7 linked regions of the Homo sapiens genome follow. The protein of the gene in region 1 interacts with the protein of each later gene in a biochemical or structural test. Each region holds a gene or a part of one and is shown in the gene's direction. Other genes may lie near its edges.

Region 1 (4,087 bases):
AGCCAGGCGTAGTGGGGAGTGCCTGTAATCCCAGCTACTCAGGAGGCTAAGGCAGGAGAATTACTTGAACCTGGGAGGCAGAGGTTGCAGTGAGCCGCGATCTCACCATTGTACTCCAGCCTGGGCAACGAGCAAAAACTCCAGCTCAAAAAAAAAAGTTGGTTTTCAAATCCTTCTTTCTTTACCATGTTACACCATAAATATTTTTGTTATATTGCGTGTGTTGAGTACTGGTGATAGGGAAGACAGAGAGAAATAGGTGGGAAGGAGATAGAGAGAGAGAGAGGGAGGGAGGAAGGGGAGACATAAGGGGGAAATCTATAGAGACAGAGACTGAGAGACAAATACAAAAAGGTTGAGACAGGAAAGGGAAAAAAAAACAAGCTGGGAGGGAAGGAAGACTGAGAGAAGGGAGACAAAGAGGAATAGGATGGCCAGTGGGGCTGGGGTGGGTGGGTACAGAGAGAGAATGAGTGAGAGCAAGAGAAGCGCAGGAGACAGATGATGGACAGGCAGCTGATGTATGGATGGGTAGCTGGAGAGAGAGGCCATCAGTAACTTCACATCTCTCTGTTTCCATTTCCTGCCCTCAAATGCCTTCATAATAGAGTCTACGTAATAAGGTTATAGGGATTCAGTGCAGATGAAGTGCTGGCACTTGATACGGGATCAGTAAGTATTAGCTATTATTCTATCACATTAAGTTGCATAAACTTTAACCTCATTACTCTTAAATTCTCTATAGAAACCTAGTCTTTATCTGTCTTACAAGCCCTCAAATTTAGCTAATAGCGTTGTTCATTGAATACCTTAAAATTGTATTTAAAGACAGGCCGTGAATACAATTAGGCATTGCTTTTTGAAGCCAAAATACCATGAGGGTGGGGAGGGTCATGTTCATTTACCCAGATCAGCAATAAAAATACTAATGGCTAACAAGGCTTTCTGGGGAAATTGCCTGTCATTGGGTAGCCCAGTGCCTCTGGTGTCAGCTGACCCCGGAGTCCATGAAGACATGTTAAAAGAAGAGGAAATGTGAATGCTTTCAAACCAGCCATGGCTGGCAGCAGAAGGGGAGGCCTTTCAGTCTGTTGCAAATGGCCTGTGACAATAAAAATGCCTTTGTGGGTATTAGCAGGCTGACTGTGGACAGTCTGGATCTGCGGCCACTGCAGGGATTCCTGGAACCTGTTGGGAAGGTGTCCGGCGAGCTCACTGTGGTGTCTGTTAGGAATCTGGAGCAAATCCTATTTCTTTTGAAAGCACAGAGAACTGTGTTTTTACATTATACCTTTAGGATTTTGGCCATGGTTTATATTTCAGTCAAAACAAATCATTATGTTCCCTAGGCTTTTATATAGGTTTTCCTGGTCAGGTTGCATTTGTTTTTCAACTTTACTATCTGTCATTATTGCTGCTCTTATTACAGGTTAACAGATTATTAAACTGCACTTTTCAGTACCTTGTAGCTAAAGACAGACAAGTGCAGGGTGTTCCACATCTGAGTTCACCCAGCAGTGCTGTGTTGTTGCGTTGCACTGAGCAGGCACAGAAGGCTCTGAGATATGAGAGACTTGGTCTCTACCCCAGAGGAGTTTACATTGTTGTGGTGGCAGAAGAGAAGGCGTGGCATAAGAGAAGACGCGGTTGTTCTGTAGTGAGCATCCCAGTGTCAGGTGCCACAGTTGGCATCCATGCAGAAATTCTCTGCATGCAGGATTCATTGAGCCCTCCCGACAGCCCAACTAGGTTGATGCCATGCCGTTGTTGCCCTGTTGTGCAGTTGAGAAACTGAGGCTCAGAAACAAATGTCTTCAAGACATGCTGGTGCTGAGGTTTGAACAAGGCCTGTCCACCCAGAGCCCATGCTTTTTGTACTGCTGGGGACATGTGAACAGATTGCTTACTGGGTGATAGATGCAGGGTGGTGATAGAGACAGACACCAGGTACCCAAATGGGTTAAAGGAGAAGCATCCTGTTGTGGGCGAGGTGATGGGGAGGAGGAAGGACCGGTTAGAGAAGGTTTATGGGAGATGGGGAGGCCAGGAAGAGCAGAAGAGGCTGGGGAACGAACTCTAGGGAGAGTAAATGGCACTTGTCACAGTGCAGTCAGGAGAGGCAAGCAACAGGAGGCCTGGGGGATCTGAAAGGAGTTTGGAGAGGCTGGAATGGAAAGCAGGAGTAGAGGGCCAGATGCTCCCAGTCTCAACCCTGAAGAGCCTGGCATGCCTGCTTCAGGAGCTCAGACTTTTACTATAGTGGTGGAAGGAATAACAACCCCAGCCATTTTTTGAGGGCCTGTGCATGCCTAGGCCCTCAAAAACATGTCCCATGTTAGCTGCAAACTGCCAGCTACCCTGCAAAGCACATCATGATCCCAGCATTGCCCCCGATGACACTGCCAGTAAGTGGTAGCTGACCATTGGGAGACAGGGCCACCTCCCAAGCCCATGCTCTCTTCTGCCTCTCGGCTGGCAGCCATCTCTAAGGGATTTGAAGCAAGAGAGTGACCTGGTCAGGTCTGCATTTGAGAAAGATGGCCCTGATAGTAGGGAGTGGAGGTGGAATGGCCAAAGGGGGACCCAGCCAAGGGCGTGGTAGAGCATGGAAAGGACAGAAGTGATGAGAGATTGAGGAGGAAAAGTGCCAAGATGCAGGGTGGGAACTGACAGAGGATGACTTCCAGCCTCAGTCCTGATATGGGCGTCAATGGCAGGTGTTCAGAATGGCCTTGAAGATAGTGGCATCTCTATTTATGAGTGTCTTTGTACTCCATTTCCAGTAATTGGAGACTTTTTCACCGTAGATTCTTGGAAGGTGACACAATTTTTTTTTTTTCCTTTTTGGTTGAGGGAGGGGGACAGGGACTGTGTATCTTCAGAAAGGTTAATATTTGAGGCCAAGGCAGGCAGATCACTTGAGGTCAGGAGTTCAAGACCAGCCTGGCCAACATGGTGAAACCCCGTCTTTACTAAAGATATAAAAATTAGCTGGGCATGGTGGTAGGCGCCTGTAATCCTAGCTACTCAGGAGGTTGAGGCAGGAGACTCACTTGAACCCGGGAGGCGGAGGTTGAAGTGAGCCAAGATCGCGCCACCGCACTCCAGCCTGAATGACAAGAGTGAAACTCGGTTTCCCCACCAAACAAAAAAAGAAATACCTAGTTTCTACCAGAGACAGTCACAGGCACTGTACTTCTACTCTGGTTTGTTACCTGTGTTCTTAAAAAAATTAAATGCTACATTTTAGTAAGAGGTTAGTGAAATAAAATTTTAATTTTTCCCATCAGAGGACATGGAGCCCTTGAATTCTATCCCAGACTCCCAGGGTCTTCCAGGTTAACAAGTCCTGCACTAAGGAATTGGCTCAGTAAAACCTCAGCATTCTCACAGGAAGAGCCTAAAAAGGAGACTGGGATAAATTAGTGAGAGGTCCAAATTATGCAATTTTCTTTTAAAATAAATGCAGTTTTATTACTTTCCACTTGTAGCCATTATAGGCAGTAGATTAAATGAGTTTCTAGAGAAACCTCCTTTAAAAATAAAGTTATTTAATTAGTCCAAGGTTTAAATATTTCCCCTGGAATCTTTTACATGACAATGTCTTAGCCAGACAATTTTTAAGAAACAAAATTCTCCATCCTAACTCCTATCCCCATCAACAGTCCAAATCTTAACCTTTCTTTTTTTTTTTTTAGACAGAGTCGAGCTCTGTTGCCCAGGCTGGAGCGTGGTGATGCAATCTTGGCTCACTGCAACCTCCACCTTCCGGGTTCAAGCGAAACCCCTGCCTCAGCCTCCCGAGTAGCTGGGACTGCAGATGTGCACCACCACGCCCAGCTAATTGTTGTATTTTTAGTAGAGACGTGGTTTAGTAGAGACGACCTCCCAAAGTGCTGGGATTACAGGAGTGAGCCACCACACCTGGCCAGAAACCAGGTGTTTGATATCAGGTGACGGTTGTGATCATTGTTCGCACCACTACTTTGAAATGACATAGTTGCCACTGGACCTTGTTATTTAATGTGCGAATAAAGAGACAGTTATTTAAGGCATTAATAAGAGCTATATTACAAGTTTTTAAAAG
Region 2 (4,087 bases), on another chromosome or scaffold:
ACATTAAGCTGTAGGATTTCAGATAGCTATTGTAAGTGCTCACAAGAATGTGTGTGTGGTTTGTTTTATTTATCTATCTATCTATCTATCTATCTATTTATTTATTTATTTATTTATTTATTTATTTATTTTTGAGACGGAGTCTTACTCTGTCGCCCATGCTGGAGTGCAGTGGCGCAATCTCGGCTTGCTGCAACCTCCGTCTTCAGGTTCAAGCAATTTTCCTGCCTCAGCCTCCTGAGTAGCTAGGATTACAGGTGCGCACCACCATACCCAGCTAATTCTTATATTTTTAGTAGAGGCGGGGTTTCACCATGTTAGCCAGGCTGGTCTCGAACTCCTGACCTCAAGTGATCCACCTGCCCCAGCCTTCTAAAGTGCTAGGATTACAGGCGTGAGCCACCATGCCTGGCCTTGTGTGGTTTGTTTTAACTCATCTCTATATAGGACTTCTAAGACTTATTTATATTTTTTTCAATAATTAAAAGAGCAGGTACATTTTTAATAGTTCAGAAGGGGGTTAGATACATAAAAAGTAACACATAAAAGCCTGCCCCACATATCCCATTTCCTTTCTTTTTGTAAAACATTTGCAATGTGTCCTTACATATCATTATCTTCATTTAATAAAATTAGGAAGTATTTGAGAAATATTTTAAAAAGAAGAACAATATACCAAAAATTCTTATACCAACTTCTCAGTTTAAGAAATAGAAACATTAGGCCAGGCACGGTGGCTCACGCCTGTAATCCCAGCACTTTGGGAGGCCAAGGCATGCGGATCTCTTGAGGTCAGGAGCTTGAGACCAGCCTGGCCAACATGGCAAAACCTCATCTCTTCTAAAAATACAAAAATTAGCCAGGCATGGTGGCTCACGCCTGTAGTCCCAGCTACTAGGGAGGCTGAGATACAAGAATCTCTTGAACCCAGGAGGCAGAGGTTTCAGTGAGCCAAGATTGCACCCCTGCACTCCAGCCTGGGCTATTAGAGATATGATGGAAGCCTTTGTCCCTCTATGATTTCATTCCCCTCATTTTTTTCCCCAGAGATTACTACTGTTCTGAATTTGGTGTTGATTGTTCTGTTGAATGTTCTATTACTTTTACTATATATGTATTTATTTATAAATAATATAAGAAATTGTTTTGCTTCTTACAGCTTACATTTTGTTGATCAACACTATCTTTATGAGACTTATCCATGGTGATATGGGTAACTCTAGTTTTTATTTAAACTTCCAAATAGTAGCCAAATTTGGATGGACACTATCAGACCTCCTATTGGTGGACAATCAAGTTGTTTCCAACTTTTCACAATTACAAGCAACATTTAAATGAATATTTTTATAAATGATTCTTTAGTCATTCTAAGTCCTTGCTGTTTGAAAAGTATGCTCCACAGACCAGTAGCATCGCCACCATTTAGGGACTTGTTAGAAATGGAGCGTCTTTGATTCTGCTGAAAGAGCACATTAAAAAAAAAGAGAGAGAAAGAAAGAAATGGGGAATCTTATGCTCCACCCAGACCTACTGATCAGAATCTGCATTTTAACAAGATAGGTGATTCATATCCATATTAAAGTTTGAGAAGCATTATTTTAACGTTTTTACCTACCTAGGAGTAGTATTGTTGGGTTATAGAGTTTGCACATCTTCACCTCTATTCTGCTGTATTGTTCTCCAAAGATACACCAGTTTACACTCCTGTTAGCAGAGTATGAGTTCCACATCCTCACTGACACTTAGCTGACTTTAAAATTTTTGCTATCTAGAAAATAAAAAATGTCATGGAGTTAAGTATCTTAAATTTTTTCTTTTTCCTATCTGGTAGGTATGATTTTCAATTTGCATTTCCTTGATTATTTAGTAAGGTTGTGTATAGACCTTTTTCAGTGCACTTGCTTTATTTTCTGAAAAGGAGCTTTTAATTAAATTAGGTATTAAATGTATTTTAAGTGTTACTTGACTTTTATTTATATATATGTATACACAAATGTTACTTTACTTATATATATGTATATGTGTATACATAAAATTAACATTAGTAGAAATCTTGTTTAATAGACTTAATTTTTTCAGCACCACAGGCACAATCACGATGTGTGTTTCTTCTGACTCTGTTTCCAAGAAGAATATTCCTTGAGTGGAGAACAGCAGTTTACAACTGGGCCCTGCAGAGCTCCCATGAAGTAATCCGGGCTAGTTGTGTTAGTGGATTTTTTATCTTATTGCAGCAGCAGAATTCTTGTAACAGAGTTCCCAAGATTCTTATGTATGTACTAAGATTTTAATTTGAATATATCACTCTATTGGAAAGATCATAATTGTCTGGCTATGTATGCAGGGTTGTGTTTATTGTTGAATATGTAAAGCAAATGTTGCTTTTAGTTTTAGAATTTAACATTTTTTCCTTCTAGGCTTTGTTTTACCAGTACTTTTGTCCCAAATTAAGCAAGACTATTTAGACCACAAAATTAGGCAAGAAAGTTTAGTACTTTTTCTTTTTTTTCCCCAGAGATAAAGTCAAAGATGATTCTGACATTGTCAAGAAAGAATTTGCTTCTATACTTGGTCAACTTGTCTGTACTCTTCACGGCATGTTTTATCTGACAAGTTCTTTAACAGAACCTTTCTCTGAACACGGACATGTGGACCTCTTCTGTAGGAACTTGAAAGCCACTTCTCAACATGAATGTTCATCTTCTCAACTAAAAGCTTCTGTCTGCAAGCCATTCCTTTTCCTACTGAAAAAAAAAATACCTAGTCCAGTAAAACTTGGTGAGTGATTATGACTTATTTAATACTTTAAAACCTATTTAAGCTCTGCTTTTCAAATCAGTAAAAGAATTAGACTGAAGCCTTGAAAAATTACAGGAAGTTACATGCTTTATAGATTCAGTGCTCAGTATTGATTAGTTATAAATGGGATAACTGGTATTAGATCGCATCACAAAACTGGTAGGAGAGGTGATTTTGGGATTTTTCGAATACTCTTGTGATTTGACAGCCTAAATGGGGCATACCTGATGGTTGTTTCAATATTGTAAGATTCAATATTAGATTATCTTCTTTAGTGATACCAGAGATCGTCTTAATGTGCCCCCTGTTACAACCTTGGACCTTGAGAACTTCAAATAGTTAAATTACTTTGCCCAACTGAGGACTATAGAGTGTATCTTCTTGGCCACTTTCCAGTGGTAATGGAGTATAAATTTTTATGAAGTATGAGATTTATACAAATACTTAGAAGATCCATTTGTTTAGGTAGTAAGTTGAAACTTGTTCTGAAGTTTCAATAGAAACTTTCTATTGAAAGCAATAGAAAGTACTCCCTAAATCTTGTAATGTAAGGTTAACAATAAAGCTAAGATCCCCTTGAGAAATGTGCTTTTCTTTTTTTCTTTTTTTTTTTTTCCCCGAGACGGAGTTTTGCTCTTGTTGCCCAGGCTGAAGTACAATGGCGCCATCTTGGCTCACTGCAACCTCTGCCTCCTGGGTTCAGACGATTCTCCTGCCCCAGCCTCCGGAGTAGCTGGGATTACAGGCGTGTGCCACCAGGCCTGGCAAATTTTTGCATTTTTAGTAGAGACAGGGTTTCACCATGTTGGTCAGGCTAGTCTCCAACTCCTGACCTCAGGTAATCTACCCACTCTGTCCCCCCAAAGTGCTGGGGTTACAGGCATGAGCCACCATGCCCGGCCTTTCTTCTTTCTTTTTTTTTTTTTAAGAGACAGGGTCTTGCTCTGTCACCCAGGCTAGAGTGCAGTGGCGCAATCATGGCTCACTGCAGTCTGCATCCTTGATCTCCCAGGCTCAAGTGATCCTCCCACCTCAGCCTCTTGAGTAGCTGGAACCATAGTATGTGCCACTACACCCAGCTAATTTTTAAATTTTTTGTAGAGAGGGATCTCACTTTGTTGCCCAGGCTGGTCTTTGAACTCCTAGCTTCAAGTGATCCTCCCACCTTGGCCTCCCAGAGTGTTGGGATTACAGGTATGAGTCACCACTCCTGGCCTGCAATGTGTTTTTAAGTTTATCTTGGTAACATATAATGGTCTACAAAATCTGAAAGAGACTTGTTATTTTA
Region 3 (4,281 bases), on another chromosome or scaffold:
CGTGTTCTTCCACCCTGTGTCCCAGGTGGCTACTACCTGACCAGCCTCTCTGCCAGCCTGGCCCTGCTGAGTGGCCTGGGTCAGGCCCACACCCTCCCACTGAGCCCCGTGCAGGAGCTACGGCGCTCCCTCAGCCTCTGGGAGCAGCGCCGCCTGCCTGCCACCCACTGCTTCCAGGTAACAGGCCCTCCACCGTGTCCTCAGAGCCAGACGCCATCCCCGCCTTTCACCTTCCTGTCCTTGGTGAAGAGTCCAGACTCTGTAGACAGATCCTGGGTTCTAATCCTGGCTCTGCCACTGGGTTGTGGGGACTTGGGCGAGTTACTTAACTACTTCGTGCCTCAGTTTTCTCATCAGTAAAATGGGGTAATAGGACCTACCTCCTGGGGTTGAGGTGAAGATTAAATGAGTTAATGCAGGAGAGTGCTTGGGGCACAAATTACTCACTATCAAATCTTCATCTCAGGCTTGTGAGCGCCCCACTGGGCTGTCCTTGCACCTGCGGCTGTGGCCCACAAGCCGACCCCTGGAGCACATAGAGCTTTTGCCGCTTGGTTCTCCCACTGGATCTCCACCTACCCACCCTGTCCCTGCACAGCCCAGAAAGCTGATGTCTCAGCTTTGGAGCCAGATGCATGCCAGCCGGGGCTGAGTACTTGTTTTTGCTTCTCCTCCTGCATAGCACCTCCTCCGAGTAGCCTATCAGGATCCCAGCAGTGGCTGCACCTCCAAGACCCTGGCCGTGCCCCCAGAAGCCTCGATTGCCACCCTGAACCAGCTCTGTGCCACCAAGTTCCGAGTGACCCAGCCCAACACTTTTGGCCTCTTCCTGTACAAGGAGCAGGGCTACCACCGCCTGCCCCCTGGGGCCCTGGCCCACAGGCTGCCCACCACTGGCTACCTCGTCTACCGCCGGGCGGAGTGGCCTGAGACCCAGGGGGCTGTGACAGAGGAGGAGGGCAGTGGGCAGTCAGAGGCAAGAAGCAGAGGGGAGGAGCAAGGGTGCCAGGGAGATGGGGATGCTGGGGTCAAAGCCAGCCCCAGGGACATTCGGGAACAGTCTGAGACAACTGCTGAAGGGGGCCAGGGTCAAGCCCAGGAAGGCCCTGCTCAGCCAGGGGAACCAGAGGCAGAGGGAAGCCGGGCAGCAGAGGAGTAGCTTGAAGTGGCCAGAAGGGTCATTCGGGGCGGGAGACCCTGAGCCTGCTGAGAAATCCTTTTAGCGCCAGCAAGCCCCACCCAGGGCCCTGTCCTGTGTCTGCCACCACCTTTGTCTGATACTTGTTTCCAGGGAAGCTGGGGGAACTGCCACATCTGAGGAACTGGAATAAAGATGAGGGGGCTTCGGGGGCCCCCAGACTGTGTGCCCAAGGCCCCTTGCCTCTTGTTCTTCTCCCCCAGCTGAGGGTGAGCCAGCCTGCAATGAGGGTGTGCCAAGTGGGGGCGAATCCGACAGATGCCCAACCTCTGACGTGGGGAGGGTGACGGTCTCAGCTCCTTTTACCCTTCCCCTCATGGGCATGGCTGAGGCAGGGCTCCACCCAAGTATCTCCCACCAGGCTGGGACTTCCAGACCCTAAAAGGTTCCAATGGCTCTTAGGTGTCAGGAGGATTTAGAGAGGCCACAGAACAGCAGCAAAGGCTTGGGGCCCACCCCTGTCCTGGACACCAGAAGGACCTGCACCTGCAAGCCTCAGTACTCTCATCTGTAAAGTGGGGACACTATTGCTGCCCTGCTCGGCTCCCAGAAGTGTCCCAGTGATCAAAATGGGTGATTTTGCTACAAGCAGAGCTCATGGCAGAAAGGGAGGGAGAGAGCTGGGCTGCTAACTCTCTCCCGGAGTCCGCTCTCTGCCAGACAGGGCTCCCACCTGCTGATGCCCAGTTCAGGGAGGTTATTCCCCTGGAAATCAGGCCCTGGGGAGAAAGTACCCAAGTTACAGTCTCTCCCCAAGATTTGGAGTCCTCCCAGGCCCTCCAGCATCTCTGGGGAGATCCACCAGCTGGCAGATAAGCTTCCAGAATGGAGAGGGGGCTCAGAAACCATGCTCTCTGCACTAAACTCTTGGCCCTCACAAAAGCTTTACTTGGCCATGACTTGTTGGGCCCACTGAGGGTCAGGAAAGTGACTCCCAGGATGTCATATAGCAAGTCCTTAAGGGTTCCCCCGCCCAAACCAGGGCATCAGGTTCCAACTCCACCCTCCATTCTAAGCCACCCACAAAGGCCGGGGCAGCCCCCAAGGAAGCCCAGAGCAGGCAGCAAATCCAAACAAGGAAAAGTGCCGACCACCAACCACGAGGGGGTGTGCACGGCCCGGGAATCTGCCGAGAGGGTGACCACCCAGGGGTGAGGGCGCCTCCAAGGCTGCAGCAGCAGAGGGGGTCCCGGGCCTTGCAGTCCAGCAGCATCAGGCAACCTGGGGACAGCGCAGGGGCCAAGGCCACTGGCCCCCAGGTCCCTTAGATTCTGGGGTCTGGGTAAGGCCAGCCTCTTGGGGGCCATCCCCAGGAAGGAAGGAATTGTCCCCTTATGGAGGATGACCCCAGAGGCTCTCTCCTCGGGCACTGAGCACAGAGGGGACGTCAGCCCAAATGTCAGACATGACAACTGGGAGGTAGAAATCGTGGACATTGGCTTTTTGGGTTTTTTTGTTTGTTTGTTTGTTTGAGATGGAGTTTTGCTCTGTCGCTCTGGCTAAAGTGCAGTGGTGCCATCTCGGCTCACAGCAACCTTCGCCTCCCAGTTCAAGTGATTCTCCTGCCTCAGCCTCCCGAGTAGCTGGGACTACAGGTGTGCACCACCACACCTGGCTAATTTTTGTGTTACTAGTAGAGACGGGGTTTCCCCATGTTGGCCAGGCTGGTCTCAAACTCCCGACCTCAGGTGATCCGCCCGCCTTGGCCTCCCAAAGTACTGGGATTACAGGCGTGAGCTACCACACCCAGCCAGACATTGACTTTCAGATGAGCAGTCCAGATACAGCCCAGTTGCACGGCTCCCATTTTTTTTGTCACTAGGCCACCAGCAGCTCTTCCCTCCCCACTTCCACGCCCTCCCAAGGTTCTCGCTGATAGGAAGTGTCCCGTTGGCTCTTCTATTCCCCTCCCTGTTTCACCACTCACCCCTAGTGCCTCACACAGTCCAATGCTGAGCACAAATGCCATAGGTGTTCAATAAATGTTGTTCACTGATTGGAGTTTGATAACCAGGAGTGAGGGACAGTGAGGCAGAAACCTGGGGAGTATAAGGGAGGACTCGGTTCTGGGAATCAAACACGGGATGTGTCAAGCTCAGTCCCAGAGGAAGGACCTGGAATGTTTGTAGAGGGTGCTCGGAGGATCCCAGGGGCCGGATGTACAACTGGCCTCATGGGAATGAGGCTCTGGGGCCTCTACAAGCCCTTCCCACCCTTGCCAGGCTCAGCATGACCTGACCCCCTCCCTGCCCTCCCCAGTGATGGGGCACCACAGGGAGCTGCTGCCTGGGTCTTGTGGTTTTTCTTCTCAAGAAACTCTGGGCTGGGCCTGGTGGCTCACGCCTGTAATCCCAACACTTTGGGAGGCCGAGGCCGGTGGATCACCTGAGGTCAGGAGTTCAAGACCAGCCTGGCCAGCATGGTGAAACCCCGTCTCTACTAAAAATACAAAAATTAGCCAGGCGTCGTGGCACACACCTGTAGTCCCAGCTACTGGGGAGGCTGAGGCAAGAGAATCACTTGAACCCGGGAGGCAGAGGTTGCAGTGACCCGAGATCACACCACTGCACTCCACCCTGGGCAACAGAGCAAGACTCCATCTCAAAAAAAAAAAAGAAATGAAAAGAAAACAAAAAAGAAACTGATTGGTCAGGGGTCCAGGCCAAATCAGCATCAACAAGATTATGATCCTGGGGCAGAGCCTCCAGGCAAGGCAGACAATGATAGGCCAGTGTAAGACCAGTCTCACTAGCCCCATTTTACAGATGAGAAAACTCAGACTTGCTCAGGGAAAGTGCCTTGTTACAGGACAAAGGGCTCAGACACCAGGTTCTGTAGTCCTTCAAAGCAGAGGGGCTGATTTATATGTCCACTCAGCACATCTATCAAACATCTGTTATAGGCCGGGCAAGGTGGCTCAGGCCTGTAATCCTAGCACTCTGGGAGGCCGAGGTAGGCAGATCACCTGAGGTCAGGAGTTCAAGACCAGCCTAGCCAACATGGTGAAACCCCATCTCTACTAAAAATATAGAAGTTAGCTGGGCAAGGTGGCTCACGCCTGTAGTTCCAGCTACTTGGGAGGC
Region 4 (4,087 bases), on another chromosome or scaffold:
TGACTTGTGTTTTTGAAAAGATTATTAGCTGCTGTGTAGAGAACAGATTTAGGGCAAGGAAGGGAAAAAGAGACCACTTGGGAGCCTTCTGCAGAGGTCTAAGTGAGATGTGATGGTGGCTTTCAATAGGGAAAAGGCTGGATTTGAGATGGAATTTGAATAGGACCTAAATACAGGAGAGTAATTTCAGGTACATTCTTATTTTATTTTTTCTTTCAGTCCATAAAAGAATTCCAATCAGAAGAATATCTTCAGATTATTACAGAAGAAGAGGCATTGAAGATAAAGGAGAATGATAGATCACTTTATATCTGTGACCCTTTTAGTGGCGTTGTCTTTGATCACCTCAAAAAGGTTTGCTGACTTCTAGTGTGTACCTTTGGTAGTCTATTTTTTGGTTTATCTTTGCTTTAATGGACATACATTCTTTGCGGATTATAAAGTACTATGCAACTTATGAGTACATTGGAATTCTTTTGGTTTGGCAAGACCAGGATTGAAAGGCTAATTATGTTACAGTAGGCTTTTTTTGTTTGTTTGTTTGTTTTTGTTTTTGTTTTTTGGAGACAGAGTCTTGTTCTGTTGCCCAGGCTTTAGTGCAGTGGCACAAGCTCAGCCCACTGCAACTTCTGCTTCCTTGGTTCAAGTGATTCTTGTGCCTTAGCCTCCTGAGTAGCTGGGATTACAGATGTATATACACACCCGGCTGATTTTTTTATTTTTAGTAGAGAAAGGGTTTCTCGATGTTGGCCAGGCTGGGCTGGTCTTGAACTCCTGCACTCAAGTGATCCTCCCACCTCAGCCTCCCAAAATATTGGGCTTATAGATGTAAGCAGTAAGGCAGTTTTCAGTGAAAGGGGCTTTTGAAGTTTATTTCTTTTCTTTTCTTTTTTTTTTTCTTTTGTTATAGGGTCTCACTCTGTCGCCCAGGCTGGAGTGCAGTGACGTGATCTCAGCTCACTGCAACCTCCGCCTCCTGGGTTCAAGCAATTCTCTTGCCTCAGCCTCCCTAGAGACTGGGACTGCAGGTGCCCGCCACTGCACCCGACTAATTTTTGTATTTTTAGTAGAGACGGGGTTTCACCATGTTGGCCAGGCTGGTCTCGAACTCCTGACCTCAGGTGATCCACCCCCGCTCGGCCTCCTCTGAAGTGCTGGCATTACAGGCGTGAGCCACTGTGCCTGGCCTGAAGTTTATTTCTTTTGATAGCTTGCATTGTTTGATTTGCTTTTGTGTGTGAGTGTTTAATGTATAGTATCTCTGAGAAATTATATAGTCATCTTTATTTTTTTCTTGTAATGATTTGCTGATTTCTCTACAGTGGTCATCAACTTTGGTAAAGAATTGGTGAATGTTACAAAATGTAATTTTGTAAGACTGGTGGTCTTTTCCTTCTTAACTCATTTAAACTTTTCTCTTTTTTGTAGCTTGGCTGCAGAATTGTTGGTCCTCAAGTAGTCATATTTTGTATGCACCACCAGCGATGTGTCCCAAGAGCCGAACATCCAGTTTATAATATGGTTATGTCTGATGTAACCATATCTTGTACAAGTCTGGAAAAAGAAAAAAGGGTAGATATTGATCTCATGATGATTGATCAATTTATATATCTATCTCTTATTCTTAATTTTTCACTGCATAGAAGATAGCTTAAAAGACTTTCCGCTTATTGTTCGTGACTTTTAACAAAGTTCAGTATACAACCACAGTGTGTATATATGTATACATGTACATTTTTTAAGTAAATTGAATATAGTAGAATTTGTTTTGTTGAAAACTGGCTAATTGAAATTTTTTGTTTTAATTTAAAAGGACACTCATTTTTTAATCACTTACATTTTTCCACTATAGGTGGACAGTCTTTAAAAAAAAGGATTCTAAATCGTTTGAATCAGGGAGGTGGAGGTTGCAGTGAGCCAACATCACGCCACTGCACTGCAGCCTGGGTGACAGAGCAAGATTTCGTTTTGGAAAAAAAAAAAAAAAAGCATTCTAAGAGAGAGCTATAGAAATACATATATATATTTGGGACAGGGTCTTACTGTCACCCACGCTGGAGTGCAGTGGCACAATCACAACTCACTGCAACCTTGATTTCCTGGGCTCAAGTAATCTTCATGCCTCAGCCTCCCGAGTAGCTGGAATTACAGGCATGCACCACCAAGCCTGGCTAAAAATAAATATTTATATATTATATAGATATAATTTATGTTGTTAAAAATACACATGTATATTTATATAGAAGCAAAGATTAAGATTTATACATCCTTTGTATAATAGTTTAATACATTCATGGAGTTGAAAGGGATAAATATAGGAAAATAATATTTTAAAAATATAATTCATACTTATCTCCCAAAAAATAATTTGGTTAATTATTTAACTTTATAATGTTATGTAACACTTATGTATTCAAACTGTCAACAGCAAAATGTATTTATGAGATAGTGTATAAAAGTGGAAGCAATATTGTTTGCTTCAGCATTAATGTGTTCTCTTTTGGGGCTGCAGGAAGAAGTTCATAAATATGTACAAATGATGGGCGGACGAGTATACAGAGACCTTAATGTATCAGTAACTCACCTTATTGCAGGAGAAGTTGGTAGCAAAAAATATTTAGTTGCTGCAAACCTGAAGAAACCTATTTTGCTTCCCTCTTGGATAAAAACACTTTGGGAGAAGTCACAAGAGAAGTAAGAAAGACATTTTTATATTTTCTAGATTTGAAAAAATGATGCATTCAATCATTTTTGGCATGTGATATACTCTTTGGACTTACTATTCAGGGAAAAAAATAGTGTCATTACTCTTTTCTCCAGCGAAAACGGAAGAGCAGAATCTACAAGCTCTTATTACCAAGATATAAGTTGACAGGCATAGAATGGGCCAAGGGTTTAGCATTAGCTACAGAGTAGGAAATGCTTTGGTGATAAAGTTCTCAGCTGTAAATATTTCTGAAATAATTGAGAAAACGAGTTTGGCAATTCTGTAGCTTTTATGTTGCATTATCCTTCAACACCATTCCCATATGTTAAGATAGATAATAAATTAGTCATTTTGGCAGTTGCATTCCTTCCAAAAGATGGCATATGTAAGGTTGAATATAAACATATGCAAGTCATCAGCTGAGATGTGATCATTTAATAAATGCTAATTGAGCCCATTTTACGTATCTGACTTGAGGTAGGCATTAGGTATATGTAGTAAGCAAAACAAGATAGTCACTTCCCTCATGGAGCTTAGAGCCTATTTCAAGGGGCACACTTCAGTTTCCCCTGCAACTAGATAAACAACCACAAGACCAAACACCACAGAATTGTATTGGCATACGAATTATATCGGCACTTTTCTGGGCTTGTTTTCAACACCATCCAGCATATCCCAAATATGTCTCCATGTCAGCAACTCTCATTCCCAATGTGATTACTTCATCAGCACACCTCCCTAGCATGGCAACAGAATAATGATATTTTTGTTGGTATTTTGCCAAAAATCATTGCTTTTACTTGTATAGAATAATGGAAAGATTAAAAAGTTCATTTATCTAATAGGCAACCAAATTACCTTTGGGTTTTTAAGTAGAGATTCAGACTTATCATTTTGGAAAATATACTATGACCAGCAAGGGCTAGAGTTAAGGAAATATATATTTTTCCCTTAAAATGGTTTTGAGAGACTGTATCTGAAACAATTACTTTGTTTTAGAGACATGTTATTGAACTAGGTGAACAATTAGTGTAATTCTGTTTTGGTGGTTCTCCTTTGTAAAAAAAAGATTATAAATCCTAAAAAATGAGGGAAGCAATAGTGATATTTGTGTTGTTTTTCATTATTCTTCTGGTAAATTTAATATGTTCTTTTTTAACCATTTGATTCCCACAGAAAAATAACTAGATATACTGATATAAACATGGAAGATTTCAAGTGTCCTATTTTTCTTGGTTGCATAATCTGTGTGACTGGCTTATGTGGCTTAGACAGGAAAGAAGTTCAGCAACTCACAGTTAAGCATGGAGGTCAATACATGGGACAATTGAAAATGAATGAATGTACACACCTCATTGTGCAAGAACCAAAAGGTAAAAC
Region 5 (4,087 bases), on another chromosome or scaffold:
TGAACTCCTAGACTAAAGCAATTCTCTTGTGTCAGCCTCCCAAGTAATTGGTTGCAGGCACACACCACCATGCCTAGCAAATTTTAAATTTTTTAGTTTTACTTCATTTATATTTACATAGTTTTTTCTGTTGTGCTTTAAGCCCCAGTATTTTTATTGTTTTAGAGATTGGGTGTCATTTTGTGTTGCTCAAGCTGCTCTCAAATTCCTGGCCACAACAGTTCTTTTTGCCTCGGCCCTCCGGAATAGTTGGAATTATAGGCATGAATCCCTACACATGGCTGGCTTGTGGTTTTTTTGGTTTTGTTTGTTTTTAACTAAGCTTCTACACTAATGATTTCAGTGATCTAACGATTTTTTTCTTGATTGATATATTGTTGAGTATAGGTCCGTTTATTAATGGTTAGTCGAATGGCTAAACCAGAGGAAGTATTGGTTGTAGAGAATGATCAAGGAGAAGTTGTGAGAGAATTCATGAAGGATACAGATTCCATAAATTTGTATAAGAATATGAGGGAAACATTGGGTAAGTTAATAAATACTGTTAATCTTTACCTTTATAAATCTATTCTGGGGTGGAAATACATTTTAGGAAATGTACTTGTAGTTTCTAAATATTTTCTAAATGTATTGTTACTCATCAATAAAATTCTGCTCATTATTTGCATTTGAAACCATGTTTTTCTTTGTAGTTTATCTTACTCATCTGGATTATGTAGATACAGAAAGAATAATGACAGAGAAGCTTCACAATCAAGTGAATGGTACAGAGTGGTCATGGAAAAATTTGAATACATTGTGTTGGGCAATAGGCTCCATTAGTGGAGCAATGCATGAAGAGGACGAAAAACGATTTCTTGTTACTGTTATAAAGGTATGCAAGGGATAGGTATGAATTAGAATTGCTAAATAAGTATTATGTTGTTACAATAAATAATACAAATTTGTCTTATTTACAGGATCTATTAGGATTATGTGAACAGAAAAGAGGCAAAGATAATAAAGCTATTATTGCATCAAATATCATGTACATAGTAGGTCAATACCCACGTTTTTTGAGAGCTCACTGGAAATTTCTGAAGACTGTAGTTAACAAGCTGTTCGAATTCATGCATGGTAAATCTCTTTCTTTACTATATTTTGCTTTTATTTTTATTGAAGAAAATAAATGAATGTTTTTGTCTTGTTAGAGACCCATGATGGAGTCCAGGACAAAATAAATGAATATTTTTGTCTTGTTAGAGACCCATGATGGAGTCCAGGATATGGCTTGTGATACTTTCATTAAAATAGCCCAAAAATGCCGCAGGCATTTCGTTCAGGTTCAGGTTGGAGAAGTGATGCCATTTATTGATGAAATTTTGAACAACATTAACACTATTATTTGTGATCTTCAGCCTCAACAGGTATGTTAAGCACTGAGCATATGTTATTTTTAGAAAGTAACACTTGTATCAATCTGTATGTATCAATGGAAATAGGAGGGCAACTATTGGATCCAATAGAAGTGTTTCTGATTAAATTTTCTTTCTTTTTTCCTTGAGACAGGGTCTTACTCTGTTGCCCAGGCTTGAGTGCAGTGGCACAATTACGGCTCACTGCAGCCTTGAACTCCCAGGCTCAGGTGATCCTCCCACCTTGGCCTCGTGGGTAGCTGGGACTACAGGCATGCACTGCCATCACACTCAGCTAACCTTTTTCCCCCCCTTGGTAGAGATGGGGTTTTGCCAAGTGGCCCAGGCTGGTCTTGAACTCCTAGCTTCAAGCGATACGCTTGCCTCAGCCTCCCAAAATGATTTTATATGTGTGAGCCACCACGCCCAGCCTGGTTAAATTTTCATAGTGAGACAGATTCTTGACCAGAAGATTGTTAGGCTGTTGTCCTATGTAAAATTATTCCGAACAAACAAAATCAGGTGTTTTTTGTTTTGTTTTGTTTTGGGGTGTGTGTGTGTGTGTGTGTGTGTGTGTGTGTGTGTGTTTGTTTTTTGAGATGGAGTTTCACTCTGTCGTCCATGCTGGAGTGCAGTGGCGCAATCTCGGCTCACTGCAGCCTTGCCTCCTGGGGTCAAACGATTCTCTTCCTCAGTGGCTATGATTAACAGGTGCTTGCCACCACGCCCAGCTAATTTTTTTATTTTTAGTAGAGACGGGGTTTCTCCATGTTGGTCAGGCTCATCTCCAACTCCTGACCTCATGATCCGCCCGCCTCGGCCTCCCAAAGTGCTGGGATTACAGGCGTGAGCCACCACCATGCCTGGCCAGTTTGGGTTGTTTGTTTGTTTGTTTTTTGAGGTGGAGTCTTCCTCTGTCACCCAGGCTCGAGTGCAGTATTGCAATCTCGGCTCACTGCAACCTCTGCCTCCCAGGTTCAAGCAATTCAAACCTCCCAAGTAACTGGAATTATAGGCACCTGCCACCACGCTTGGCTAATTTCTTTGTATTTGTAGAAGAGATGGGGTTTCACCACGTTGGTCAGGCTGGTCTGCAACTCCTGACCACAAGTGATTGGCCTGCCTTGGCTTCTCAAAGTATTGGGATTACAGGAGTGATCCACTGCACCTGGGCCAAAATCAGTTTCAAGACGTTTGTGAATTGCTTGTGTGTGGTTTTCCTTATTAGGGTGTATAACATAAACGTTAAAATGTCTGCTTTTTAAAATAGGTTCATACGTTTTATGAAGCTGTGGGGTACATGATTGGTGCACAAACAGATCAAACAGTACAAGAACACTTGATAGAAAAGTACATGTTACTCCCTAATCAAGTGTGGGATAGTATAATCCAGCAGGCAACCAAAGTAAGTATTTCTACCTTTTCTTAAAAGTTTTCATGGGATTTAACAAGACGTGTTCTTTACAAATGTATTGAATTCAAGCCTTTTAACATGTATGTGTGATCCATAAGTGCTTTTATGTGTGTCTTTCTATAATTTATTATCTGGGCGAGGTGTGGTGGCTCACGCCTGTAATCCTGGCACATTGGAAGGCCGAGGCGGGCGGATCACCTGAGGCCAGAAGTTCGAGATCAGCCTGGCCAACATGGCAAAACCCCGTCTCTACTAAAAATACAAAAATTAGCTGGGCGTGGTTGCACATGCCTGTAATCCCAGCTACTGAGGAGGCTTAGGCAGGAGAATCACTTGAACCCAAGAGGCAGAGGTTGCAGTGAGCCGAGATTGAGCTACTGTTCTCTAGCCGAGACGACAGAGCAAGACTCTGTCTCAAAAAAAAAAAAATAAATGAAAAATCTGGGCCGGGCTCGGTGGCTCACGCCTGTAATCCCAGCACTTTGGGAGACCGAGACGGGTGGATCACTAGGTCAGGAGATTGAGACCATCCTGGCCAACGTGGTGAAACCCCGTCTCTACTAAAAATACAAAAATTAGCCAGGCATGGTGGTGGGCGCCTGTAATCCCAGCTACTCGGGAGGCTGAGCCAGGAGAATGGCTTGAACCCAGGAGGCGGAGCTTGCAGTGAGTCAAGAGCATGCCACTGCACTCCAGCCTGGTGACAGAGGAAGACTCTGTCTCAAAAAAAAAAAAAAATACTGTAATTTCCATTCTCATTTGATATTAAAATAGGAATAGGCTGGGTGTGGTGGCTCATGCCTGTAATCCCAGCACTTTGGGAGGCCGAGGCAGGCGGATCACCAGGTCAGGGGATCGAGACCATCATGGCTAACGCAGTGAAACCCTGTCTCTACTAAAAATACAAAAATTAGCTGAGTGTGGCGGCGGGCGCCTGTAAGTCCCAGCTACTCAGGAGGCTGAGGCAGGAGAATGGCGTGAACCTGGGAGGCAGAGCTTGCAGTGAGCCGAGATCACGCCGCTGCACTCTAGCCTGGGCAACAGAACGAGACTCCGTCCCAAAAAAAAAAAAATAGAACTATATTACTTCATTCTTAAGTAGATGTAGACAAAAAGGCGTTTGTGTTCGTTTTTACCATTTGGGATTATAAATATGGTTTAGGGTAAGGGAAGCGTAATGGCTTTTGCTTTGGTAATTATGTGGATTTTTTTTTTTTTTGAGATGGAGTTTCACTCTTGGTGCCCGGGCTGGAGTGCAATGGCGTGATCTCGGCTCACT
Region 6 (4,087 bases), on another chromosome or scaffold:
TTTGATAGCACAATAGGGCAACTGTAGTTAACAGTAATTTACTGTATATTTTTAAATAGCTACAAAAGAAGATTTGGAATGTTTCCAACACAAATGATAAATGTTTGAGATCATGGATATCTCAATTACCCAAATTTGATCATTACACATTGTATGCTTGTATCAAAATATCACACGTACCTCATAAATATGTACAACTATTATGTATCCATAAAAATTAAAAATAAATTTTAAAAAGAAACACCTAAAGAATAATCTGGCTGTTTCTTTGGTAGAGAAATAGGAAGAAGAGAAGCAGAGGGAAGGTTGGATGAACTGGTGCACAAATGCTTATGCTCTCAGATTACATTCCATTCATATACATCAACCAAAACATTAAATAATAACAAACTAAATGCAGAAGCAGAGATAAGAATTCATCTCGTTCTGTTAATCCAGACATTAAAGAGATTTGCAAAAATGCAAAACAGTGCCATGCTCACTAAGTTTTGTTTTGTTTTGGGAAGTATACAGTTGAAATTCTTTATCTACAGGTTTCCATCTATGGATTCAACCAACCGCAGATCAAAAATATTTGAAAAAAAAATTTTAAAGAATAGGGTATAACACTTATTTACATAGCATTTACATTATAGTAGGTATAATATGTAATTAGAGATTTATGTATAACCTGTGCACATTCTCCTATTACACGTAATCTAGAGGTTATGTGTAATACTTTTTGGAAATGTTTAATAAAAGCACAATCTAGAGGTTACGTGTAATAGGAAAATGCCCTGCCATTTTAAATAAGGGACTTTGAACATCAGCATTATCAAGGTGTCTTGGAACCAATTTTCTGCAGATACAGAGAAACTACTGTAGTTATTTTTCCTAAAAATTGTTATTTATGATATATAGTAGATTTATTATTTTTGAATAAATTAATACATTTTAGATTTTTCTCAGTCTTTCTAATATGATATCATATCTAATATCAGTAGATATGGTCCAACGATCGAAAGTTCTTTGGGGTCTTCAATAATTTGTTTGATTGTAAAGGAGTTCCGCAAAAAGTTTGAGACCTGCTGTGGTAGGGTCATTTAGAGAGGAATTGAAGTTTTGGTTCCTAGCATTTTTGTTACTGTTCCTTCCCTATCAAGCAACTAAAAGAGCTTTCATTTCTTAGTCATCACTTTGTCATCTTACTCTCCCTGCTTCCTCTTTCTTATTTCTTTCAATAAATGTCCCTGAAGGATTGGGTAGTATTTCATAGTTCAGTTATTTGGGAAGGATACTATTCATATAAACTAATTGTGCAATATGCCTTTTCTGTTCCTTTAATAATGTTGGTAAATGAAACCTTTGCCAGATGCCAGCTTTTCCTTCACTGGATTGTGATTTTTTTGACAGCTATAATTATGCATCAAGTCATCCCCAGTAGGGGGTCCCTCATTTCCTTGCTGACATGTCCTCATTACTACAGGCAGTATTGAAGCAGGACTAAAGATGGAGGCATTCTTTATGATAGGTCTGATGAATATGTTCTTGTTTCAGAAGAGTATTTAGAAGGGCTGCTTTTTGTAATGTCAGAGTATTAAAAATTTTTTTTGATGTTTGTCATCTGTGACCTCTCTGCTAATAACTCTTAAGAGCTCTGACCGCATAGCATTTTGTAGTTTTCTAAATTTTGATCCATATGTAGGATTATTTACAAGTTCTAGTCTTGTCACTACAAAAGTTCCTTTGTATTATTATAATATTATATCGTAAGTTCCAGAACTTACATAGTTTTTTTTTTTTTTTTTTTCATTTCTCTTGCTTACATGAACTCTATGTCGTGGCATTCAGATCAGTCACACATAGACAACTCTCTGAAGTATATATTAAGTGGCAGAAACACTCCCAGCTTCTCAAGGACAGTGATTTTAGTTTTCAGGAGCCTATCATGGCTCTACGCACAGTCATTTTGGAGATCCTGATGGAAAAGGAAATGGACAACTCACAAAGAGAATGTATTAAGGACATTCTCACCAAACACCTTGTAGAACTCTCTATACTGGCCAGAACTTTCAAGAACACTCAGGTAAATACAATTTAAAACTATGTCATCTTACCTCTTGACTTTCCTTTTATTATTTAAAAAACAGAAAGCCTGAGGGAAAAAGAAATGTCATTAAGAGATAGAGATCTCTATTAATATATAGTAAAAATAATTGTTTAAGAGTTCCCATTTTGGAATTAGATCTGACTTTTAAGCCTTGGGCAAGGGTACTTAATCTTTTCTCAACCTCAATTTCCTGGTTATAAAATGAGAAGATACGTAACTTACTATATTGATAACAATTCAGTGATTTTATATACTGTGTGTATGTACACACAGATACACATACATACATATAGAGAGAGACAGACAGACAGACAGATAGGCAGACGTGGGGTGGGGAGATGTCATGCAGACAGAGAGGTCCTTAAGATAGTCCCTGACAAGTAGTTAAGTCCTCAATGAATGGTAGTTGCTGCTTTCATTATTATTATTATTCATGGTAGTAGTATCAGTAGTAAAAGTATTTATTCCCATATGTCATTTTCATTTCAGCTCCCTGAAAGGGCAATATTTCAAATTAAACAGTACAATTCAGTTAGCTGTGGAGTCTCTGAGTGGCAGCTGGAAGAAGCACAAGTATTCTGGGCAAAAAAGGAGCAGAGTCTTGCCCTGAGTATTCTCAAGCAAATGATCAAGAAGTTGGATGCCAGCTGTGCAGCGGTTTGTTTTTTTTATTGGCTGGATTAGTGTTTTACTGTTATTTAAAAAAACACAAATGTACTTTAAAATATTTTTAATAACAATTTTATTAGAGCCTTGAAATTAGTAATTTATTAACAAGATATTGTAAAACTAGTCTTGAAAATTAATTTGTAAATGAAGTTTAGAAACTTTTTCCTATATATCACAATTCTATCAGTCCATCATGTGGTCGATTCATTTAATATATCCCAGTATTAAGCCTTTAACTTCCTATAGAATTCAAGAAAGGTATGTGGGAAATGAATGAAATAGCTACTCTAAATTTGAAATGACAAGTGAAAAAAGGGAAGAGGAAATGAATGAGAGAACTAAATTAGAAAATAAAAGCAAGTTGGGACAATTAGGTTGTCAATCCAAATGCTTTGAAAATATCACATCTAATATTTTATCTAACATTACCTGTTGGTTTTTGCAAACTTATGTTGCTACTTCAGCTGTAAACCCAGCATACACACTGGATAAAGTAGAGGCATTGGTGTCCCCAAGGTTTGTCTACAGTGGTGTCCCACAGACATGTACCTGCTTAGTGAATATCAGCTCACTGTGCTTTATTATTTATTTATTTATTTATTTTTTGAGACGGAGTCTTGCTCTGTCACCCAGGCTGGAGTGCAGTGGTACGACATCGGCTCACCGCAACCTCCACCTCCCTGGTTCAAGCAATTCCCCTGCCTCAGCCTCCCTTGTAGCTGGGATTACAGGCACATGCCACCATGCCCAGCTAATTTTTTTGTATTTTTAGTAGAGATGGGGTTTCACCATGTTGGCAAGACTGGTCTCGAACTCCTGAGCTCAGGCAATCTACCCGCCTTGTCCTCTGAAAGTGCTGGGATTACAGGCGTGAGCCACCACGCCCGGCCTTTACTGTACTTTTTGATGTTGGGCACTCATTGTATAGCATCTTCTGTTATTAGAGAAATCATTATACCAAAGCACTGAGTGCCAATATGATATGTGTAAATATTGCTTAATAGTATTGGCCCTGAAGTATGTGCTGTCTGGAGTTACCCAACTTCCTTGTACCTCAGTTTTCTAATCTGCAAATTGGGGTAATAATAGTACTTATTTAATAGGATTCTTGTGAGAATTAAATGAGTTAATATATATAAAGCCTTTACAAAGTGTCTGACATATATAAGTACTCAATAAATGTGACTTGCTCCAATAATGGCAATAATAATAATAAACAGAGGATGATCATTTCCTACATGGGATTATTAAAATAGTTGTATGGCAAAAGCAGATGAGGAAAAACTTTTTTTTTCCCACCCACCAAGGAAAAACATTTTTAACCTGCTT
Region 7 (4,087 bases), on another chromosome or scaffold:
TCCCACTGAGCTACCACCGCCTCAGGGAAGGGTGGCTGGAACAGGTGGTATCTACCCCCTACTCCCCACCCCACACATGGTCTTTCCCTGAACCAGAGGAAAGAGACTGGGGTAGGGCTTCAGAGTCCAGGACTTCCCATAGCCCGTTGTCCACCACATTTGCAAAGAAGAGTGAACTCCCAAGGCTGACATGCCATGTACCTCTAGTCTAGGCTCTCCCCTAGTGTGGGTGAGGATTGCCATGGTGAAAGGCTTTTTCATGAACCTCTTCTAACAATGAAATTGTGTGGAGGCTCAATATGGGGCATCTGCTACTATCTCTCTCCAGGTTCCTCTGTATTTGCTGAAAAATACTCTAGGGCTGGAAAGTGATGCTGAGGTTGCTAGAGTGTGTTGGGATGGGGGAGAGAGTGAGAAGGAAACCCTGAGTTTAGGAAGGCGGGGAGGCAACTAGCTCCTTATCTTTCAGCTTTAAAGACAAAGCTCCCATTGACCCCCCCTCACCCCAGCACTGCCAGAGCTCCCCCCTCTACTGAGGTCACTTGTCTGAGCCCAAGGCTTGAGGGTGGAGGGGAGTGCTGCTGAGGACGGGGTGTCTAGGGACAGGGTGGGGCAGCCCCCCTCCTGGATAGAATCGCCTCATTGTGGGCTGGACTGTGGCCCCAGGCACTGCCCCCACCCTCTGCCCCCATCCCACCCTCAGTAGACACAATAGGGGCTGTGTACTAGTCCCAAAGAGATATTTATTCCAGGACCTAGAGAGAGGCAGGATGAGGGTAGAGAAGTGAGTGCCCTAGTTGGAGGGGGAGAGGAGGGTAATCAAAGTTGCGGCCTTTTCCTAACTTCTCTTTTCTAGGGAGAGAAACAAATTCCCTGTCTTCCTTCTCAGTTAACCCCTTAGTACCCAAAAGAAGCACAGAGGGGTCCCAGGTTGAAAAAGGAAATCTTTTCACCTTCCCATTCATGGAATGGTAAGGGGATTCTGAGAAGAGAGAAAGCTCTCAGGCCACTACAGCTTCTGCCTATCGCTTGTGGGAGGGTTGGAGGCAAATGCCATCTGATCCTGTCTAATGTAACTGGAAGAGGGCAACCAAGGGGGTGATCTTTGGGGATGGCAGATGGGCTGAGAATTTGTGTCCAGCCCTCAGCCACTCTTCCCTCTGCTTTGAACAGTGTGTCCTGGGACTCTGAATGGCCTGAGTGTGACCGGCGATGCTGAGAACCAATACCAGACACTGTACAAGCTCTACGAGAGGTGTGAGGTGGTGATGGGGAACCTTGAGATTGTGCTCACGGGACACAATGCCGACCTCTCCTTCCTGCAGGTTAGTGAGCCCACCCTCCTTCCTCAACCTGCTCCTCTTTATTCTCCCCTAGAACCCTCCTTCCTTCTTCAGGGCTACCTTCTGCTGGAGTTCACCCTTCCTAAGACTCAGGAGTTCCTAAGATTCAAAACCGTGTATTTATGGGGACAGTGGCTGTCATCTGGGACCTATGGTCTCACTGTTGTAGCCAGGGATATATAGGGGGCAGGGTCAGGGGCAGGTGGTGTTCTGTGGATAGTGCAAGGTCAGCAGGGACTAGTGCAGAGAGAAACCTGAGGACCAAGAGGTTACCTGGGGAGATGAGGAAGGGGCCCTACTGGTATGAGGCACTTTGAGGAGAAAGCTGCCTGTCTTCACTCCCAGAAGTGACACAGCAGTGTGACACAGTCTACTCCCTACTCCCAAATAGGAATTAGCAAGAGTTAAGGCCAGGTGCAGTGGCTCATGCCTGTAATCCCAGCACTTTGGGAGGCCAAGGAAGGCAGATCACTTGAGGTCAGGAGTTCAAGACCAGCCTGGGCAATGTGGTGAAACGCTGTCTCTACAAAAATACAAAAATTAGCTGGGTATGGTGGCATGCACCTGTAGTCCCAGCTACTTGGAGGGCTGAGGTGGGAGGATTGCTTGAGCCCAGGAGTTTGACGCTGCAGTGAGCGAGATTGTGCCACTCGTAACAGAGCGAGACCCTGTCTCACCAAAAAAAAAAAAAAAGGCCAAGCTCGGATCACCTGAGGTCAGGAGTTCGAGACCAGCCTGACCAACATGGAAAAACCACATCTCTACTAAAAATACAAAATTAGCCAGGTGTAGTGGCACATGCCTGTAATCCCAGCTACTTGGGAGGCTGCGGCAGGAGAATTGCTTGAACCCGGGAGGTGGAGGTTGTGGTGAGCCAAGATCGCACTATTGTACTCCAGCCTGGGCAACAAGAGCGTAACTCCGTCTCAAATTTTAAAAAAAAGAAAAAAAGAAAGGAAAGAAAGAAGGAAGAATTAAAACAGTTAAAGAGTCTTTAATGCCTGAAGGAGGAGAGGAGATTGAGATTATTTTGCCCTGTTGTCTCTCTCATTTACATAATCTGCTCTGTCACAGTGGATTCGAGAAGTGACAGGCTATGTCCTCGTGGCCATGAATGAATTCTCTACTCTACCATTGCCCAACCTCCGCGTGGTGCGAGGGACCCAGGTCTACGATGGGAAGTTTGCCATCTTCGTCATGTTGAACTATAACACCAACTCCAGCCACGCTCTGCGCCAGCTCCGCTTGACTCAGCTCACCGGTCAGTTCCCGATGGTTCCTTCTGGCCTCACCCCTCAGCCAGCCCAAGACTGGTACCTCCTTGATGATGACCCAAGACTGCTCACTCTAAGTGCCTCTTCCAAGGTGCCTGTCACCTTGGCCGCTGTCTAAAGGTCCATTGCTCCCTAAGCAATAGAGGGCCCCCAGTAGGGGGAGCTAGGGGCATCTGCTCCAGGGAAAGGAACCCTGTGTCCTTGTGGGGCTGGAGTCAGAGCTGGATCTGTTAACCGTTTTTCTAATTTCAAAGTACAGTGTACCGGAGGCCAGGCCTGATGGCTTACACCTGTAATCCCAGCATTTTGGGAGGCCAAGGAGGGCAGATCACTTGAGATCAGGAGTTTGAGACCAGCCTGGCCAACATGGCGAAACCCTGTCTCTACTAAAAATACAAAAAAATAAAATAAAATAAAAAATTAGCTGGCTATAGTGGTGCGCACCTGTAATCCCAGCTGTTCATGAGGCTGAGGCAGGAGACTCGCTTGAACCTGGGAGGTGGAGGTTGCAGTGAGCTGAGATTGCACCACTGCACTCTAGCGTAAGTGACAGTGAGACTCCGTCTCAAAAAAAAAAAAAAAAAAAAAAAAAAGCCTGGGCGCGGTGGCTCACGCCTGTAATCCCAGCACTTTGGGAGGCCAAGGCAGGTGGATCACAAGGTCAGGAGATCGAGACCATCCTGGCTAACACGGTGAAACCCCGTCTCTACTAAAAATACAAAAAATTAGCCAGGTGTGGTGGCGGGCGCCTGTAGTCCGAGCTACTCGGGAGGCTGAGGCAGGAGAATGGCGTGAACCCGGGAGGCGGAGCTTGCAGTGAGCCAAGATTGCACCACTGCACTCCAGCCTGGGCGACAGAGCGAGACTCCAAAAAAAAAAAAAAAAAAAAAAACCAAAGTACAGTATACCTGGATGTCCCTCCTTCCCTAGGAATTCTACCTTTACTCTCCTAAACCAAACCCCTATGAGCTGGAGGAATATAGGGGTTAAAAACCACCTGTCCATCTTCTGCTTCTCCATGTCCCAGTCAGTTGGAAAACATATGGGCAGGGCTTGGGGGAGGGAATGTTGAGTCAGAAATCTCTCCCTCTCTCCCTTCCCCTCCCCCACTAGCTAAACCGGATCTGGACAGGTGACTGAGGAGGCAGGAGTTTCTTTTGGCCTGACTCCTCATCTTATAAAGGGAGTCTTCTCTGCAGCTTAGATTTAATTGGACCTATCTGTCTGCCTCATTCTCCCACTCCTGAGTCTCAGGTGTCCTTTTGGATGGGTGGAGAGGTAAGGAAGAGGCGTTCCGCTGCGGCCCTTAACCCTGTCACTTCTTTCCCTACCTCAGAGATTCTGTCAGGGGGTGTTTATATTGAGAAGAACGATAAGCTTTGTCACATGGACACAATTGACTGGAGGGACATCGTGAGGGACCGAGATGCTGAGATAGTGGTGAAGGACAATGGCAGAAGCTGTAAGTGG

The links.
Region 2: of the proteins of ABL1 (region 1) and ATR, one has a biochemical effect on the other in vitro, tested with the Homo sapiens proteins (2 studies listed by BioGRID, with this or other methods).
Region 3: of the proteins of ABL1 (region 1) and RIN1, one has a biochemical effect on the other in vitro, tested with the Homo sapiens proteins (2 studies listed by BioGRID and IntAct, with this or other methods).
Region 4: the proteins of ABL1 (region 1) and TOPBP1 form a complex in vitro, tested with the Homo sapiens proteins (one study listed by BioGRID).
Region 5: the proteins of ABL1 (region 1) and XPO1 interact in a test that uses a peptide from one of them, tested with the Homo sapiens proteins (2 studies listed by BioGRID).
Region 6: of the proteins of ABL1 (region 1) and ATM, one has a biochemical effect on the other in vitro, tested with the Homo sapiens proteins (3 studies listed by BioGRID and IntAct, with this or other methods).
Region 7: the proteins of ABL1 (region 1) and ERBB3 form a complex in vitro, tested with the Homo sapiens proteins (2 studies listed by BioGRID and IntAct, with this or other methods).

The regions. Positions count from the first base shown.
Region 1 is NC_000009.12:130,841,665-130,845,751, forward strand, and holds part of ABL1 (tyrosine-protein kinase ABL1), read left to right. Parts: intron 1-4,087. UniProt on the Homo sapiens protein: Non-receptor tyrosine-protein kinase that plays a role in many key processes linked to cell growth and survival such as cytoskeleton remodeling in response to extracellular stimuli, cell motility and adhesion, receptor endocytosis, autophagy, DNA damage response and apoptosis.
Region 2 is NC_000003.12:142,554,568-142,558,654, reverse strand, and holds part of ATR (serine/threonine-protein kinase ATR), read left to right. Parts: coding exon 1-31; intron 32-2,079; coding exon 2,080-2,272; intron 2,273-2,515; coding exon 2,516-2,778; intron 2,779-4,087. UniProt on the Homo sapiens protein: Serine/threonine protein kinase which activates checkpoint signaling upon genotoxic stresses such as ionizing radiation (IR), ultraviolet light (UV), or DNA replication stalling, thereby acting as a DNA damage sensor.
Region 3 is NC_000011.10:66,329,154-66,333,434, reverse strand, and holds the end of RIN1 (ras and Rab interactor 1), read left to right. Parts: intron 1-25; coding exon 26-177; intron 178-682; coding exon 683-1,159; 3' UTR 1,160-3,194; downstream 3,195-4,281. UniProt on the Homo sapiens protein: Ras effector protein, which may serve as an inhibitory modulator of neuronal plasticity in aversive memory formation. Can affect Ras signaling at different levels. First, by competing with RAF1 protein for binding to activated Ras.
Region 4 is NC_000003.12:133,655,283-133,659,369, reverse strand, and holds part of TOPBP1 (DNA topoisomerase 2-binding protein 1), read left to right. Parts: intron 1-219; coding exon 220-354; intron 355-1,428; coding exon 1,429-1,572; intron 1,573-2,512; coding exon 2,513-2,694; intron 2,695-3,883; coding exon 3,884-4,080; intron 4,081-4,087. UniProt on the Homo sapiens protein: Scaffold protein that acts as a key protein-protein adapter in DNA replication and DNA repair. Composed of multiple BRCT domains, which specifically recognize and bind phosphorylated proteins, bringing proteins together into functional combinations.
Region 5 is NC_000002.12:61,489,354-61,493,440, reverse strand, and holds part of XPO1 (exportin-1), read left to right. Parts: intron 1-387; coding exon 388-526; intron 527-692; coding exon 693-874; intron 875-959; coding exon 960-1,116; intron 1,117-1,242; coding exon 1,243-1,406; intron 1,407-2,664; coding exon 2,665-2,799; intron 2,800-4,087. UniProt on the Homo sapiens protein: Mediates the nuclear export of cellular proteins (cargos) bearing a leucine-rich nuclear export signal (NES) and of RNAs.
Region 6 is NC_000011.10:108,323,480-108,327,566, forward strand, and holds part of ATM (serine-protein kinase ATM), read left to right. Parts: intron 1-1,830; coding exon 1,831-2,065; intron 2,066-2,578; coding exon 2,579-2,746; intron 2,747-4,087.
Region 7 is NC_000012.12:56,082,578-56,086,664, forward strand, and holds part of ERBB3 (receptor tyrosine-protein kinase erbB-3 isoform 1 precursor), read left to right. Parts: intron 1-736; exon of another isoform or gene 737-971; intron 972-1,173; coding exon 1,174-1,325; intron 1,326-2,417; coding exon 2,418-2,604; coding exon of another isoform or gene 2,605-2,735; exon of another isoform or gene 2,736-3,040; intron 3,041-3,953; coding exon 3,954-4,079; intron 4,080-4,087. UniProt on the Homo sapiens protein: Tyrosine-protein kinase that plays an essential role as cell surface receptor for neuregulins.